4 separate regions of the Homo sapiens genome follow, and all the other regions are linked to region 1. Evidence: fine-mapped expression QTL. A gene starts in region 1. Each other region holds a variant in brackets. All regions are shown on one strand. Distances are from middle to middle. Region 1 holds the start of ABCC4 (ATP binding cassette subfamily C member 4 (PEL blood group)). Region 2 has its middle 39 kb from the start of ABCC4. Region 3 overlaps ABCC4 (ATP binding cassette subfamily C member 4 (PEL blood group)). Region 4 overlaps ABCC4 (ATP binding cassette subfamily C member 4 (PEL blood group)).

Region 1 (4,162 bases):
TAAAACAGAGGTCTACTAGCTCCTTCCCTTCCATCAGGGAAACCGGAAATGAACACCTACTCAAGTCATCAATGGGAGCGCATCACTTCCTATTTCCCTGCCACCTACATTTTGAAAATGCAGGGGGAGAAAAATATAAGGAGGCAGGAGTCACATCTGTAATCCCAGACTTTGGGTGGCCGAAGCGGGAGGAACACTTGAGCCCAGGAGTTCAAGACCAGCCTGAGCAACAACATAGAGAGCCCTATCTCTACAAAAAAAATTTTTTTTTATTATCCGGGCATGGTGACACACACCTGGAGCCCCAGCTACTCGGGAGGCTGAGGCAGGAGGATTGCTTCGGCCCAGGAGTTGGAGGCTGCAGCAAGCTATGAATGTGTCACTGCCCTCCAGCCTGGGTCACAGCTTGCACAAAGCAAGATCCTGTCTCAAAAAAAAAAAAAAAAAGTTCCTTGCCCTGCCTGAAGTTGAGGAGACCATTTGTCTACCTCAAGTTATTATTTGCAGAAACCACACCCATATTCCTTCCTCCTCCACGTGCCCCTCTCCTTAAGAGAAAGGCCGCCAAACAACCAAGAGAAGTTCCTACACCCACTGAGTGTACCACAATCGAAACAAGAGTAAGCGACTCATCCTCTTGGAATCCCCTAGGTCAAGCTTGTCCAACCTGAGGCCCATGGGCTGCCAAATTCGTAAGCTTTCTTAAAACATCAGATTTTTTTTTGCGATTTTTTTTTAGCTCATCAGCTATCATTAGTGTTAGTGTATGATTAGTGTTAGTGTATTTTATGTATGGCCCAAGACAATTCTTCCAGTGTGGCCCAGGGAACCCAAAAAATTGGAGACCCCCACCCTAGGTTGTCCCATAATAAAAGGCAATATCAACATGTGGGAAAGATGAGGCGGCAGAGGTCAAGAAACAGAAGATCTAATAATCATCCAAGTGAGATTGAAGCCCTTCAAAGGTTCAGGCTTATGTAGTTAGCAGACGGAATTCCCCCACACACACCCGCCACTCCCCCAAGACGGAGTCTCACTCTGTCACCCAGGCTGGAGTACAGTGGGGCGATCTCAGCTCACTGCAACCTCCGCCTACTGGGTTCAAGCAATTCCCCTGCCTCAGCCTCCTGAGTAGCTGGGATTACAGGCGTGCTCCACCACACCCGGCTAATTTTTGTATTTTTAGTAGAGACGGGGTTTCACCATGTCAGCCAGGCTGGTCTCGAACTCCTGACCTCGTGATCCACCCACCTCTGCCTCCCAAAGTGCAGGGATACAGGCGTGAGCCACCGCGCCAGGCCAAGATGGAAATTTTAGTTACTACTGTCACCCGAGTCTTTCTCCGTTTGTTTCCTTGCACAAAATGGGTAGGGCTGTGGGCCCTCCCAGCTCAGGAGCCCTGGGGTGGTTTTAAGAAGGTAGAACTCCTGGTAGGAACCACCTGCATCAAGACCATGGATCACCTCTCTGAAGGTTAGCGATTCCAGGGACCCCACCTCCGAGCTGTCCTCCTACGTGGAAGTGAAAGTATTGGAAACAGGGGAAAGAAGCTGGTCAAAGACAGACTCCAGTCGTGGCGGTGCATGTCCCAGTTAAAAGCAAATCCTGGAAAATCTTGTTCAAGAACAGGGTCCCCATTCATAAATGAAAAATAATAATAGTGTTATTTTACCCACATGAAACTTGCCATAACTAGGTACCACGACCCACATGGACACACAGTGAGATTCCCACAAAGAGGCAAAAGGAGAGCCCTGGTCACTGAGACAAAAGATACAGAGACACCGGGACACAGAGAGGTACAACGGGACGTGGAGTTGGATCGAGCTGTCTCGTAAGGAATATCGGAAGGGGTGGGGACACTACTGGGAGATGGCATAGGTCCAGGACACTAATTAGGCTTTGGCTGAGATCAGATAAAGGAAACTGTTCGTAAGCTGCTTACTTAAAAAGAAAGGAAAAGGTGCGTTTGAGTTCAGGAGACTGCGAGTCCCAGAGCAGGAGGCGGGAGCCAGCGAAGGGTGGGCGTGTAAGGGGTGCAGTCGCTTCTCCCGCTGGGCAAGAGACTCCCCCTTTCGGCAGCCTGGGTTCCCCGCCTCCCCACCTCCTGCTCCTCCTCCCCCGAGCCCTAAGGGCCCGCAGGGCCTCCAGTAGCAAAGCCACTGGCCCCGCGTCCCCGCGTCCCCCTGCGCCGCGCCCCGGGGCGCAGGCAGGGACCACGCGGCCGGCGTGGGGGCGGCGCCACCCGCAGCAGAAAGCCCCGGCGTGGACCGCGTGGCGTAGGAAAGCGCTCCCCTCGCCCCCAGCCGCAGAGGGCTTGGGCAGCATCGGGCGCGGCCCCGGGAGAGTGCGTCCGCGGCGCCAGCGGCTGCAGGGTGACCTGTTTCGGGCGGGGACACTCACCAGAAGAACACGCGTGAGCAGAGGTTCGCGTCCTGCAGCGGGTTGGGCTTCACCTCCTGGTACACGGGCAGCATCTTGCCGGGCGGGGCGGGCGCGGGCCGGGGTCGCGCTGATCAGGCGGCGGTGGCCGCGGGCTCCGCTCCTGGACCTCAAGCAGGGATGCTGGGGCTCCGGCCGCCACGCCTGTCCGCTCGGCTGGAGCCTGTGAAGCAGCCGCTTCCGGGAGCCGGGCGCCGGCGGCACGCCCCGTCCCCGCCTCTCAGGCCCGCCGCCTCGGGGGCGCCCGCTACGCGCCGCCGCCTGGAGCCCGGGAGCTGCGCACCGCGTGCGAGCGCGGCCGGGACCGACGGGTGACGCGGCGGGAGGAGACGCGGCGGGAGGAGGCGAAGCTGGCGACGCCAAAGGGAGCCCAGAGCTACGCCCAGGGGTGAGGCGAGGGCCGCCTGCGCCGCTGGATGGAGAGGGTAGCAGAGCGCGCGGCAAGGAGGCCGGGTCCGGAGGTGCCCACGTGCACGAACCCGAGTGAAACTTTCCGAAATTCACTATCCGAGTCTAGGCGCCGACACAGAAGGTGGAGCAGGGAGGCGTCGGCTGTGCCCGCCCCTGCGCCGCAGAAACGCCCCCTCGGCTACGGGTTTGGGAAGACTGGGAGACAGCTGCCTCGTGCTCTAGCAGCCCGCCCCCTGGGCGCCTTTCCCTTCTCAGGACCAAACGACGGTGCCATGGGAGGCTCTTCAACCTGTGAGCCAAACATTTGACCTTGGACGACAGCAAAGTTTAGCCACAGATTATCCTTGTAGAGCTGCAAGACCTCAAGAAAGCCGGGTAACTCGAGAGTATGACCCAGATGAATTCGGGAGATGGATGAATGCTGTCGTCGATGGGGGCGGGCTTTAGGCATCTCACATGTTGCATGCTACGGTGGACCTCTGAGCTTTTTGCTGCCCCCTTAGATTGGGAAAGGAATATAAGAGGAAAGAGAGACTGCCTGATGATTTCTGTCGTCAAGCCCTAAAGCCTAACAGATAACAGTGGCAAACGACACGTGGGTTCCAGAATACCAGTGATGTTCATGTGCATTTCTGAGTGCGTAGCCTCACTAGTGTGTGTGTGTGTGTGTGTGTGTGGCAGTCTCACACACAGTGTCACGATTATGGCTCATTGCACCCTCGACCTCCCAGGGCTCAAGCAATCCTCCCAACTCAGTTTAAGTAGCTAGGACTACAGGCACCCGCCACCACACCCGGCTCATATTTTGTAATTTTTGTAGAGATGCAAAAATCAAAATCAAAGGCTCCAAGTTCAAATACTGATAATTTTTGAAGCCAAATGATTGTCATGGAGGTTTATTTTCTTCATATTTCATGCATGTTTGAGAATTTGGTTTTCTTTGTAATAAGATCATTTTATTGTTCCTTGATAATTTCTCACTTTGTTGCCCAGGCTGGTCTCAAACTCCTAGGCTCAAGTGATCCTCCCACCGTGGCCTCCCAAAGTGCTAGGATTACAGGCATGTACCACCACGCCCGACCAATTATCTCACTTTTAATTCTATCAGTGCCCCATTCAAGGTTATCCTTACTTTATAGATGAGGAAGGTGAAGCTGAAAGGCAGAACTTGTCCAGTCTTAGAGCCAAGAAAGGATAAAACATGATTTGCAATAAGCCTATGTCTAAGCATGGCCTGTCTCCCTGGTGGATGGCCAGTGTGCATGAGAAGTGCCCAGAATATGCTGGTTGAATGGCTGTAGGAATGAAT
Region 2 (4,162 bases), 40 kb after region 1:
TCGCCCAGGCTGGAGTTCAATGGTACAATCTCAGCTCACTGCCACCTCCGCCTCCTGGGTTCAAGTGATTCTCCAGCCTCAGCCTCCCGAGTAGCTGGGATTACAGGTGCCCGCCACCGCGCCCAGCTAATTTTTGTATTTTTAGTAGAGACGGGGTTTCGCCATGTTGGCCAGGCTGGTCTCAAACTCCTGACCTCAGGTGATTCACCCACCTCGGTCTCCCAAAGTGCTCAGATTACGGCATGAGCCACCACGCCCAGCTGAGAAATTAAAAAAAAAAGAAAGAAAGAAAGAAAAAGAAGACTATAGAGTACCTGAAGTCTTCAGGCGTCTGGATTTATTATGAGATAGATTTTGGTTAAAGGGCAAGGATGCCTGCATATGCTTTAGAGGCAAGGTCATGGGTCTCGTGCTGCAGGGACATAGACTTTTCCATTGAAGGAACTCTCAGAGTTCAAATCCCCTAAACCCATCCTCTTTCCCTGTCTTGGCCTGATGCCTGGTGATCATAACAGTGTCTCTTTGCTGTTTCAGTCCTCCACTCTGTTCCAGAGGAACCACACAGAAAAACAGTTCCCCAAACTATAAAAGTCGTAAGACTCATTCTTTGAATAAACTGTTTAGATTTGCCGTCAGGCATGGACACCTGGCTAATATTCATTTGGAACTCTGAGTTCTAGAAGTGTTCTCATTCTTCATATAACCCATCTACAAGCCTCAACCAAAGAAGAATCATAGTAATAACACCAGGAAATTAAAGTCAAGCAAACCCTATAAACAGTTCTAATATATTTGTGCACACGCTAAGTTCCCCAGCATTGCTGTAAATTTGTCCTCTTTGCTGATTAAATGATGCAAAAATTTAGAGCTCCTCTTTTAATCGTCAACGCCATTTCCTTTCTTATCCCATCAGAACTGGGTGATTTAACCTGAGCCCTTTGGTTTTTCTTTTTTTAAATATTAACCTGTATTGTCCCCCAACAATGTGAATTTGCTTCCTGCTCAATATGTCTATTACTGACTAATGATGCTTTAAAATTCTTCCTCCTGTGGATTGATTCAGATCCAACTAACTTTTACTAAATTCATAGAATACAGCGACAGTGCTTGGCTTTCTTAGGTGTGAAATTTCAGTTAATCCCAAACATAATTCTGTGAGGTGGGAGATATCATCCGAATTTATAGGAAAAGAATCTGAGGCTCAGAGAAGGTCCCTGATTTGCTGAGGCCACACATGTTTTCAGTGACAGTAATAGAGCTGGGCATACACCTGCATTGTTTGATTCAAAGCCAGTCATCTTGGCTTTTCACCAGCCAATAGGCCGTTCACTGTCCAGATGTGGCTATATTACCTTGGTGATGGTCAGTTTCATATGAGACCAAGCTAACATTAACATCAGAGGGTACTATCACATTTGGGATTAAGTTAAAAAAGAAATCAGAGGGTAAATTTGTTGAGGGTTTTTTTTTCTTTTTTCTTTTTTCTTTTTTTTGGGGGGGGGAGGCGGTGGGGGAAAGAGCTTGCTCTGTTGCCCAGGCTGGAGTGCAGTGGTACAATCTTGGCTGACTGCCTCCTCCACCTCCCAGGCTCAAGAGATTCTTATGCTTCAGCCTCCTGAGTAGTTGGGATTATAGGCAAGCACCACCAAGCTCAGCTAATTTTTTTGTATTTTTAGTAGAGACAGGGTTTCACTATGTTCTCCAGGCTGGTCTTGAACTCCTGGCCTCAAGTGATCGTCTCACCTCAGTCTCCCAAAGTGCTGGGATTACAGGCGTGAGCCACCACGCCCTACCGATTGAGGAGCTTTGTCAGCGAAACCCGAAACAAGATGCGGAGAAAATGGAGACACAGGTAAGAGGGGTGCAGGATACCTGTCCTGGGTTCCTGGGGCAGGGAGGTTTGGCAGGAATAGGATTGGAAATAAAGAAAGAAACAAATAACCCCTAGTCATCATTCTGCTGCATTGAGCCTCCCCAGAATGTTG[C/T]CCAGATAGGCCCTTGTTGCTTATGTATGATTTGGACCTCCCTTCTACCCACACAGTCCTGTGAAGCTTCACATCTGCTGGCCTGGGCCTAACACACATAAGCCCATCTCTCCCAGTTCCCCTGTGTTAATCCACCCTTGCATTCCAGAAGCTGAACTCCAAGTTGAAGATGAATACTTTGTGCCCTGTAACCCAGATTGTCTAGATTTATATTCGTATCTTCTTTTACAGCTGGACCACCCTGGGAAATTTACTTATGTTTGCTGAAATTGGTTTCTCATCTGTAATATGGATACAAAAAGTAGTACCTAACTCATAGGGTTATTGTTTGTTTGTTTATTTGTTTGTTTGTTTTAATGAGACAGAGTCTTGCCCTGTCGCCCAGGCTGCAGTGCAGTGGCATGCGATCTCAGCTCACTACAATCTCTGCCTCCTGGTTTCAAAGGATTCTCCTGCCTCAGCCTCCCGAGTAGCTGGGTTTACGGGTGCCCGCCACCACACGCGGCTAATTTTTGTATTTTCAGTAGAGATGGGGTTTCACCATATTGGCCAGGCTCATCTTGAACTCCTCACCTTGTGATCCGCCTGCCTTGGCCTCCCAGAGTGCTGGGATTACAGGCGAGTCACTGCGCCCAGTCTCACAGGATTATTGTTTATGTGACAGTGTTTATTACAATTCCTGGAACATAGATGTTTAATGAGAAGAAGCTATTATGGCAAGATAATTTATCAAAATATTAAATTCAGTCGTTCCTATATCTCCACCCTACCTCTCCAACTGCAAATAAAATAAGTGGATAGCTAGATTGCAATTTCTTTTTTTTTTTTTTTTTTTTTGAGACAGAGTCTCCCTCTGTCACCCAGGCTGGAGTGCAGTGGTGCGATTTCAGCTCACTGCAACCTCTGCTTCCCGGGTTCAAGCAATTGTCCTGCCTCAGCCTCCCCAGTAGCTAGGATTACAGGCATGTGCCACCATGCCTGGCTAATTTTTTGTATTTTTAGTAGAGACAGGGTTTCACCATCTTGGCCATGGCTGGTTTCAAACTCTTGACCTCAAGTGATCTGCCTGCCTCGGCCTCCCAAAGTGCCAGGATTACAGGCATGAGCCACCGGGCCTGGCCGCAATTTCTTAATTCAGGAATTTTGGCACCAGAAAAAGGGAGGAGGAAGAGGTCTGTGAAAACCAGAACATACCAAAATCCCCACACAAGCATTCCAAACATCTAGAGCTGTGGCTCCCAAATGGGGGTGATTTGCACCCCCAGGGGACATTCGGCAATGCTTGGAGGCATTTCTGATTGTCACTACTGTGGGGAGGGTGCTGCTGGTATGTAGTAGGTACCGATTGGGGATACTGCTAAATATGTAACAATGCACAGGACAGCCCCTCAAATGTCAGCAGCACTGAAGTTGAGACACCCTGATCTAGGGCCTTGAGGCTAACTTGCTTGGCTGACAGGTGAGAAACTTGAGTAGGATGTGAGATTGAAGTTGTAAGTGAACAGAGCTGAGCCTTATGAACTGAAAAAAATATAGAATCACTTTGAGAATTCATTAAGGGAAAGAGGATAACATAGACCAGTTTGGGGATAACAAAGATCATAGGCAGCGTTTAGGGGGAAAAAACACTTTATGTATTTACCCCAAAGTGCACAAATCTTAGTATTGTAGCTGTTGATGAAATTATTTTGGCTGGGTGCGGTGGCTCACGCCTGTAATTCCTACACTTTGGAAGGTCAAAGCAGAAAGATGGCTTGAGACCAGGAGTTCGAGACCAGCCTGGGCAACATAGCGAGACCCCCATCTCTAAAAATAAAAATTAATTAATTAAAATTTATAAAGAAATTATTTTATCAGGCAGGGTTACTTTCCTTTTGCATCTCATTTTTTTTTTCAGTAAAAACTCTGTATATATTTCTTGTGCTGCTTTTCTGCAGGATATAAAAGAAGTCATTGGTGCCCATGTTCTTATCCAGAATGTATGGTGGCAATAACAATCAGGAAGAGAAAGTGGACCTTCTCTTTCCTTTGACACCCTTGGAAAATCCGAGTTGCAATTTGCTGTGTTCTACATACAAGATAAGGCAACAGGCTTCCTTGGAAAAATGGATTCTCGTGGCTGATATCAGACACTGGAACCCCCCAGCAGTGGGCCCTAGAGCCCTAGAATCAATTCA
Region 3 (4,162 bases), 250 kb before region 1:
GGTGGTGAACAAAGTTAGTTAAACCGCTAAGCTCCTCTTAATTTCCTGCAATGCTGTAAAGGTACATATACACATACTGAGGCTAACAGACTAAAGATAATTACATTTTATCAATTACCTCTTGTAAGGCATTCCACAGTTCCTCATCCGTGTGCTCATTAAAGGGATCCAGGTTTTTCCTCATTGTTCCAGTGAACAAAACAGGTTCCTAAGTGCCCAAAATAGTCACGGTCATTACCACAGACTCTTTTTTCATTTTATTCCAATGCTAACATCAACAATAGAATTAAGATACCAAAAAATAAAATTCATGATAATAATTATAGCGTTACAAATGCCTGTTTACAAAACAACATATCTATTAATGTTCCACTGTACAAAGCGTGCTCCAAAATACCTTCCAGACCACTGAACACTAACAAAACTGTTGCAATGTGCTATCTTAAGAAGAAAATGAAAAATACAGGCCTGATGTTTAAAACTGTTTTCCTCATATTATTAGCTTAACATGAAATATAAGGATATAATTATTCGAGGGTCTACATGAATAGAGCTATAGAAATTAACTATCAATCATGTAATACTGGAAAATACCGACAGCATGATTAAAGTTTGTGCTTCAAAGCCAAATTATTAAGCATTTTCCAATTTGCACTAAAGAATAAATTAGGATTATTTTCTCCGTTGGCAAAACAGTTTTCCAAGATTAAGAATCTCTCACCGGGCGCAGTGGCTCACGCATGTAATCTTAGTATTTTGGGAGGTCGAGGCGGGTGGATCACCTGAGGTCAGGAGTTCTAGACCAGCCCGACCAACATAGTGAAACCCTGTCTCTACTAAAAATACAAAAATTAGCTGGGCATGGTGGCACATGCCTGTAATCCCAGCTACTTAGGAGGCTGAGGCAAGAGAATCGCTTGAATCCAGGAGGTGGAGGTTGCAGTGAGCCGAGATCGTGCCATTGCACTCCAGCCTGGGCAACAAGAGCAAAACTCCTTCTCAAAAAAAAAAAAAAAAATCTCTCCAATGTCAGAATGGGACATCCTTTTTTTTTTTTTTTTTTTTTTTTTTTTTTTTTTTTTTTTTTGGCCAAAGGAGATCTAAACAACTGGGGCCAGAGGCACCTCTACTTATGAAAGGATTGCCTCTGATTTTGCATCAGTGAATCCCCACATTATCTCATCTGTGCATCAAGGTTACCTGGGTCACAGAACCTCATTATTAACTAAGAAAGCAGGGTTACCTGAAAACCACTGTGAAGGAGGTCATAATAAAATTACATCAATTTAAATAGCTGTTCCTATTCATCTGCTTCAGGAGGATCCCACAATTAAATCACTCTTGGAATATCAGCCTCTTCCTGGATTTCAAGAGAGACTCTTGAACATAAGCTTAGGTAGGCTGTGTGAAAGTTTTCTTCTGGTAGCTGGGTGCGGTGGCGGGCACCTGTAGTCCCAGCTACTTGGGAGGCTGAGGCAGGAGAATCACTTTGACCTGGGAGGCAGAGGTTGCAGTGAGCCAAGATTCCGTCACTGCACTCCAGCCTGGGCCACAGAGCAAGTCTCCATCT[TA/T]AAAAAAAAAACAACAAAAAAACAAAAACACAAACTTTTCTTCTGGAAGGCTCTAATAAGCCAGGCCATAAGGATATAGGAGCCCCATCAACTGCTTTCAAGGATAGGGGCAGAACAAGGGGATGCACAGATGTGGGAACAAGAGAAGGTGAGACTCTTCCACAGGTACTGGAGAAATGCTCAAGGGAACCACTGGCCTCAAATCTCACCTGGCTTTGGGGCAGGACTGTTCCTCCTCACTTCCCAAAAGCCTGAGAAGAGAGATAAAGGTGGTAGACTTCTTTTTTCTCCAGCCATAAAGAAAAATGATATCCAGGGAGGCTCTCATCCCTTTCCCTATCGTCTCCGTTTTAAGGCTGGTGAGGAAGAAATGGATGTAGAAGGCAGACAGGGTGCCACCAAAAACATAAGTCCTCAGCAAAATGCAAAAATGGAAACGACGGTAAAATGGGCACTTTGTGTGTATAAAGCTGATAAAGTGGCCAATATCCTTCCAAAAGCACTGAAAAGTCACTGGTCACATGATGTTTCTGAATTACCAAATGGAACTGAAAAATTCCAAGAGTCACAGGTAAGGTCTGTCTTAAAAGTACCCAACTGAAGACCAAAACCTGAACAACCATCTAAACAATGGTGGGAATTTCTTGTGAGGGGAATAACCATCATTCTGGTTATTTCAGATTAAAAGATAAAAACTTGACTTACTCTTTGTAATTATCAACTCTAAAATTCCAACCTCTGCAGGCAGAACATTTCAGAGTAGAGATTTATGGTAAACATACAATCTTCATGTAAAATGTAAAAGATTTAGTAGCCTAAGTACATATTTATTGATGGTATATATTTTAAAATGTCATTTAGTACGAGTTTTAACCTCCATTGTTAGCAAAACCAATGTTCTGTTCAACGTATTATTTTAAATGAAGCACCAGATCAAACCTGTTTTTCATTAGGGTTTAAAGGTCATACTTTTTAAAAATCTTTGCGCCATACTGAGTAGTAATTTTGTCCTCATTACTCACATAAGACAAGCTGATATTAAACATGTGACCAGGCTGGGTGTGGTGGCTCATGCCTGTAATCCCAGCACTTTGGGAGGCCGAGGCAGGTGGTTCACTGGTGGTCAGAAGTTCAAGACCAGCCTGGCCAACATGGTGAAATCCCATCTCTACTAAAAATACAAAAAGTAGCCAGGCAGGGTGGGGTGCGCCTGTAATTCCAGCTACTCGGGAGGCTGAGACAGGAGAATCACTTGAACCCAGGAGGTGGAGGTTGAAGTGAGCCAAGATAGCACCACTGCACTGCAGCCTGGGAGACAGAGCAAGACTGTCTCAAAACAACAGCAACAACAGCAAAAAAAAAACCCACCACGTGACCTAAAAATGGCCGCTCTGAATCAAAGCATTTAGTGCAGTAAATTGATAATCCCTCAGCAGGACTGCAAGACTGAAAATTACAGTCTTCCTAGAGCTTTCATATAAACTTCTGGAAGACAAGCCTCTCATTATCTCAAGAAGAAACTCTATCCACCAACCTTCAGACACTTAAAACGACCTGGGACCAAGACAAAAATCGCATGGGGAGTTACAAACCAGCAGGACAAAGCACAATACTTTACCCTAATCTTGTCCCAAACCAGGAAACTTCGCTCTCTTAAAATATACACTGCACAGTAGCTAGCCACAACTGCTGCTGCCTGATGTCCTCAGAGCTATGTGTGCATTTCAAATCCTGAAGACCTTGATTCAGGGCAGCTCATCTCCCTGTGTCAAGAATCAGGGAATCACCTGAAGTCACTTTAAATCTTGGTTTCCCTTCTTTTTTAAAAAAACCCTGTAGCCTCTGAATGAACTGATCATCATCCATTTTCAGAAGAAAAGAACATTGTTCACCAACAAAGGAAAAAGAATTTAAGTCGTGTAAAGTCTTCTTTAGATACAAAAAGGTCACCAGCTCCAGGGAGCAGTTCCATGGCCTTAATGAAGACTTCAGTGTGCAGAAACAAAGGACTGACTGCATTAGGCCAGAATCCAATTGTATTTCTTTACTAGTAACTGCATACCTACCTCTTTTCCCTTTGAATTTTGTTCTCAAAAAGAAGAAAAAAAAAAAAAAAGGAAAGAAAATCAGGTAATAAAAAAAGAAGTCTTAAAGAGACACACTCTGGTTAACCTTTTCAACTTACTGAAGAAAATTCAGGGAGTAGAAATACCAAGATAGCAGAAGTCTGAGCAGTGGGCTGCTTAAAAACTACTTAGCTTTTGCTTTGATAGAAAAACAAAAAAGTCCATCAAATATGAAAAATGAATCTGTTTAATCCTAACAAAGATTATAGCTGTTGATGTATGCCAACCGTTAGGGTGCTATCATAAATGTTGAATTTGCATGAAGTTACTCTTTAGTTGAAAACATTTATTTGTGCCAGTAGGATTGGAGGAGTAAATAATCCATCCTAAAAAAAGTTTTGAAATCCATTTTTCCAGATCCTTCAGTTAAGCAAACTCTTGTCTGAGTTATAGTATCACCTTGGTGTTCTCCTTGGGAAGTGCACTTAACTACCCTGTGTCATGAACACAAAAGAAGCATACATT
Region 4 (4,162 bases), 25 kb before region 1:
CTTCCCTCAGGTTGTGAGTCTTTAGCCCACCTAGCAGACTCAGGGTGTGCCACCAGTTCCCTGGAGGAGCAGATCATTGAAAATACAGCAAAGTTAAAATTAAACGCAACAAGGCCAGGTGCATTGCCTTCTGTTCCATGGGGACTATTTGTCCTAAGACTTTGACTGAGCACCATGGACCCTCCTGCTCTGTCAAATGCCTCTTCCTGCTGGCTCCAGGTTTACACTACTGATATGGCTCTGTGTCCCCACCCAAATCTCATCTTGTAGCTCCCACAGTTCCCACATGTTGTGGGAGGGATCCAATGGGAGATAATTGAATCATGGGGGCGGGTCTTTCCTGTGCTGTTCTTGTGATAGTGGATAAGTCTCACGAGATCTGATGGGTTTTTTTTTTGGTTTGTTTTTTTTTTTTTTTTTTTGAGACGGAGTCTTGCTGTTGCCCAGGCTGGAATGCAGTGGCGCGATCTAGGCTCACTGCAGGCTCCGCCCCCCGGGGTTCACGCGATATCTGATGCTTTTAAAAATAAGAGTTTGCCTGCACAAGCTCTCTCTTTGCCTGCTGCCATCCACGTGACTTTCTCCTCCGTGCCTTCTGTCATGATTGTGAGGTCTCCCCAGCCACATGGAACTGTAAGTCCACTAAACCTCTTCTTTTGTAAATTGCCCAGTCTCAGGTATGTCTTTATCAGCAGCGTGAAAACAGACTCATACAACTAACAAGCCTGCTTTAGCTTTTCACTGTTCTGCCCAAGCAACTTTCCCCTTCAGCCAGGCCAGTAGATTTCTCATACAGCAGGGTGACCCTGTTCAGGGCCTTTGTACTGTTTATATTTTTTACTTTGTGCATACTATGATGTCTTGACGTTTTGGAAACCTCTCTGGCTGGGGAGAGACTGTCCTTCCCAGAGCTGGCCAGTTCTTAGAACCAGAAGGGCCCAGCCAGGAGCACAGCTCTGATATGCAAACCAACCAACCCAGAGCTATGCCGTCTTTATCTAGCCTGTCCACCCCAGGAAGCAGTATTTCTTCACCTATATCATGCCAGAGCCTGATAACAAGCAACTAGAAACCATGCCTGTAGCTTACAGCCTGCCAAAATTATTCAAACTAGCCAATTCTAAACTGTTCACATGCACTCCCCTGCCCTGTCCCTGAAAGCTCAAGAAAGACCATGGCCCAGGCTCTCCCCTCACTCCTGCCCCTTCAGGCTCCTACAGGGGGGACCAAGACTGATGCTTCCCCATGTGGCCCTGCAGGGCATGACATGCTTCCCGTCTCTAAGACCTGTGAGTATAATAACCTTGGCCTTCCTGAGCACCTCCTCTGCCTCCTCCTGTGGCCACATCTCACTGACCATCACAAAAAACAACATAGAATAAGCCAGGCATGGTGGCTTATGCCTGTAATCCCAGCACTTTGGGAGGCCGAGGCAGGCGGATCACTTGACGTCAGGAGTTCGAGACCAGCCTGGCCAACATGGTACAACCCTGTCTCTACTAAAAACACAAAAATTAGCCAGGTGTGGTGGTGGGTGCCTGTAATCCCAGCTACTCAGGAGGCTGAAGCAGGATAATCACTTGAACCCGGGAGGCAGAGGTTGCAGTGAGCCGAGATTGTGCCACTGCACTCCAGCCTGGGCAACAGAGCAAGACTCCGTCTCAAAAAATAAAATAAAACAGGTTTTCATTTTAATTTTTAACATATAAACCTCCACAGGAACATTCTGACACAGACTTCAGCCCCAGGCCTACATCACCCTATGATCCAAATTATTTTATAGTAAATGGTATGAAGTTTGGAGAGGAAGGGCAATTTGGCCATCATGCTGTGATTTTACTGCAGGTAAAGTAGAATCACCATGAAAGTGGTGGAGCCTTGCTTTTTCTTTAATTTTTATAATGCCACCACCCTACATTCTTAGGAGAAAAGGCAAGGAGTTAAATAAATAAGCACAGATTTAAGTTCACATTTCTGGTAATTATCCGCAAGCTAATAACTGAGATTGCTTAAGCTCTGTAAACAAAACACACAAAGCCCTTGTGGCTCTGCGCCAGAATCAAAGGTCTGATCCAAAACTCCCCCATCCCCTTGTTGGCTTTGAACATGAAACCAATTTTCTACACCAAATCAGGCCTACTTCTTTGTAACCATCCTTACCATCTCTCTTATAGGAAAATGTTTAGGACTCTTGGCGGTGACTCTAGAACTAGGAAATCAACTCTCTCAGCAGCACTCTAATGAGCAAAAACAACTGTGCCTCAAAATACAGGCTGCAGTGGGCAGAAATCTCTGTACTGCACTCCAGCCTGGGTGACAGAGTAAGTTTCTGTCT[C/CAAAA]AAAAAAAAAAAAAAATCAAGTAACAAAGAACAGCTGTCTAAAACTGTTAACACTGATTCAAAATATAATAACCTTTATGCCTGTTATTCAGAGTTAAAGTGGGTACGCTAATTATAAATCATACACTTTTCTAATTGTGCAATACTCTGTCAATGGGATAGATTTTAGGAAAATTCCAGCTGAACCAGTCCATTCTTTGAATCATTAGGTCAATTACAAACATGCCAATCCTTAGCCTGAATAGCTGCATATTTAGAAAGACCTAAAACATTCTTCAAAAAGCTGCCATACATGGTCTGTTAAAGGGCTTACTTGGTAGGAAATAAATCAAGAGGGAATACTCCATAGTGAATCTCAGGGCACTTTTTAAAACAAATCTCAGGGCTGAGCACAATGGTTCATGCCTATAATCTCACTGCTTTGAGGGGCCAAGGCAGGAGGATTGCTCAAGCCCAGGAGTTTGAGACCAGCCTGGGCAACATGGCAAGACCTAGTCCCTACAAAAAAATTGTTTTATTAGCTAGGCATGGTGGAACACGCCTGTGGTCCCAGCTATTCCAGAGGCTGAAGTGGGAGGATCACTTAAGCCCAGGAAGTCAAGGCTGCAGTGAGCCATGATCTCACCACTGCACTCGAGCCTGGGAGACAGTACAGGACCCATCTCCAAAAAAAAAAAAAAAAAAAGTGAACGAAGCTGCAATAAGCTGTGATCATACCACTGCACACTAGCCTAGGCGACAGAGTGAGACCCTGCCTCAAAAAAAAAAAAAGAAAAAAAGAAAAAACCAATTGATAAAAGAGTAACCTCCCAATCCCCAGCTGTGGAACCCAAGAGCAGAGAAGGCAGCCACCCGCCTCTCTTTCCCTCAAAGACACCAGAGTGCAATAGGCTCTTCCTCACTCATTCCCATGGGAAGTAGCCTTCAACCCCTCTCAAACCACAGCATATAGAGATGCCTTTATTAATAAAAAAGGATACAACCCACGGGCCAGCCGCAGTGGCTCACGCCTGTAATCCCAACACTTTGGGAAGCCAAGGCAGGCAGATCACCTGAGGCCAGGAGTCCGAGACCAGCCTGGCCAACATGGTGAAACTCTGTCTCTACTAAAAGCACAAACATTAACCGAGTGTGGTGGCACACGCCTGTAGTCCCAGCTACTTAGGAGGCTGAGGCAGGAGAATCGCTTGAATCCGGGAGGCAAAAGTTGGAGTTAGCCGAAGTCGCACCACTGCACTCCAGACTGGGCGACAGAGCGAGACTCAGTCTCAAAAATAAATAAATACAATAAATAAATAAACAAAGTATACAACCCACAACTCACTTTTTTTTCTAACCAGGAATCTCAACAACAGGACTATAGGGAAACAAGAATTATTAACCTCATTAATTCAAATTAACTCTTAAGCACCCACCACTAACAGGCACTCTTATAGGTTCTAGACCTAGGATCATTTTTACAGAGTTCACATTGGGGAAGGGAGAGGGGAGAGGGAAAGGCAATCACACTAAAAAGAGGGGGTCAGAGTAACAGTAAGATCCACACAGAAGGCCAGGCACAGTGGCTCACACCTATAATCCAAGCACTTTGGGAGGCCAAGGAGGGTGGATCACCTGAGTTCAGGAGTTCGAGACCAGCCTGGCCAACATGGTGAAACCTTGTCTCTACCAAAAATACAAAAATTAGCCGGGCATGGTGGCGGGCGCCTGTAATCTCAGTTATTTGGGAGCCTGAGGCAGGAGGATCGCCTGAACCCAGGAGGTGGAGGTTGCAGTGAGCTGGGACCATGCCATTGCACTCCAGCCTAGGCAACAAGAGTGAGACTT

Evidence for each region. PIP is the estimated chance that this variant, and not a neighbour inherited with it, causes the effect. A credible set is the group of variants that fine-mapping cannot tell apart.
Region 2: its variant is the best candidate, but not a certain one, in a credible set for the expression of ABCC4 in gastroesophageal junction (GTEx, PIP 0.67).
Region 3: its variant is the best candidate, but not a certain one, in a credible set for the expression of ABCC4 in whole blood (INTERVAL, PIP 0.51).
Region 4: its variant is the best candidate, but not a certain one, in a credible set for the expression of ABCC4 in whole blood (INTERVAL, PIP 0.89).

The regions. Positions count from the first base shown.
Region 1 is chr13:95,298,838-95,302,999 of GRCh38, forward strand. ABCC4 (ATP binding cassette subfamily C member 4 (PEL blood group)) reads right to left here and starts at 2,614. Exons shown (of 31, transcript NM_005845.5): 1 at 2,404-2,614. The coding sequence starts at 2,477. LOC102724149 (a long non-coding RNA gene) reads left to right here and starts at 2,114. Exons shown (of 3, transcript XR_429273.4): 1 at 2,114-2,426; 2 at 3,109-3,489. RefSeq lists enhancers at 897-956, 2,559-3,333 and silencers at 2,150-2,789, 2,820-2,879, 3,060-3,119.
Region 2 is chr13:95,338,470-95,342,631 of GRCh38, forward strand. No RefSeq gene overlaps it. Among named protein-coding and RNA genes, the nearest start is that of ABCC4, 39 kb to the left of the region's middle. The variant C/T (reference allele first, on the strand shown) is at 1,986.
Region 3 is chr13:95,052,977-95,057,138 of GRCh38, forward strand. It overlaps ABCC4 (ATP binding cassette subfamily C member 4 (PEL blood group)), which reads right to left. Exons shown (of 31, transcript NM_005845.5): 27 at 119-208. Among named protein-coding and RNA genes, the nearest start is that of LINC00557, 95 kb to the left of the region's middle. The variant TA/T (reference allele first, on the strand shown) is at 1,571.
Region 4 is chr13:95,273,414-95,277,575 of GRCh38, forward strand. All of the region lies in intron 1 of ABCC4 (ATP binding cassette subfamily C member 4 (PEL blood group)), which reads right to left. Among named protein-coding and RNA genes, the nearest start is that of ABCC4, 26 kb to the right of the region's middle. RefSeq lists a silencer at 1,171-1,270. The variant C/CAAAA (reference allele first, on the strand shown) is at 2,336.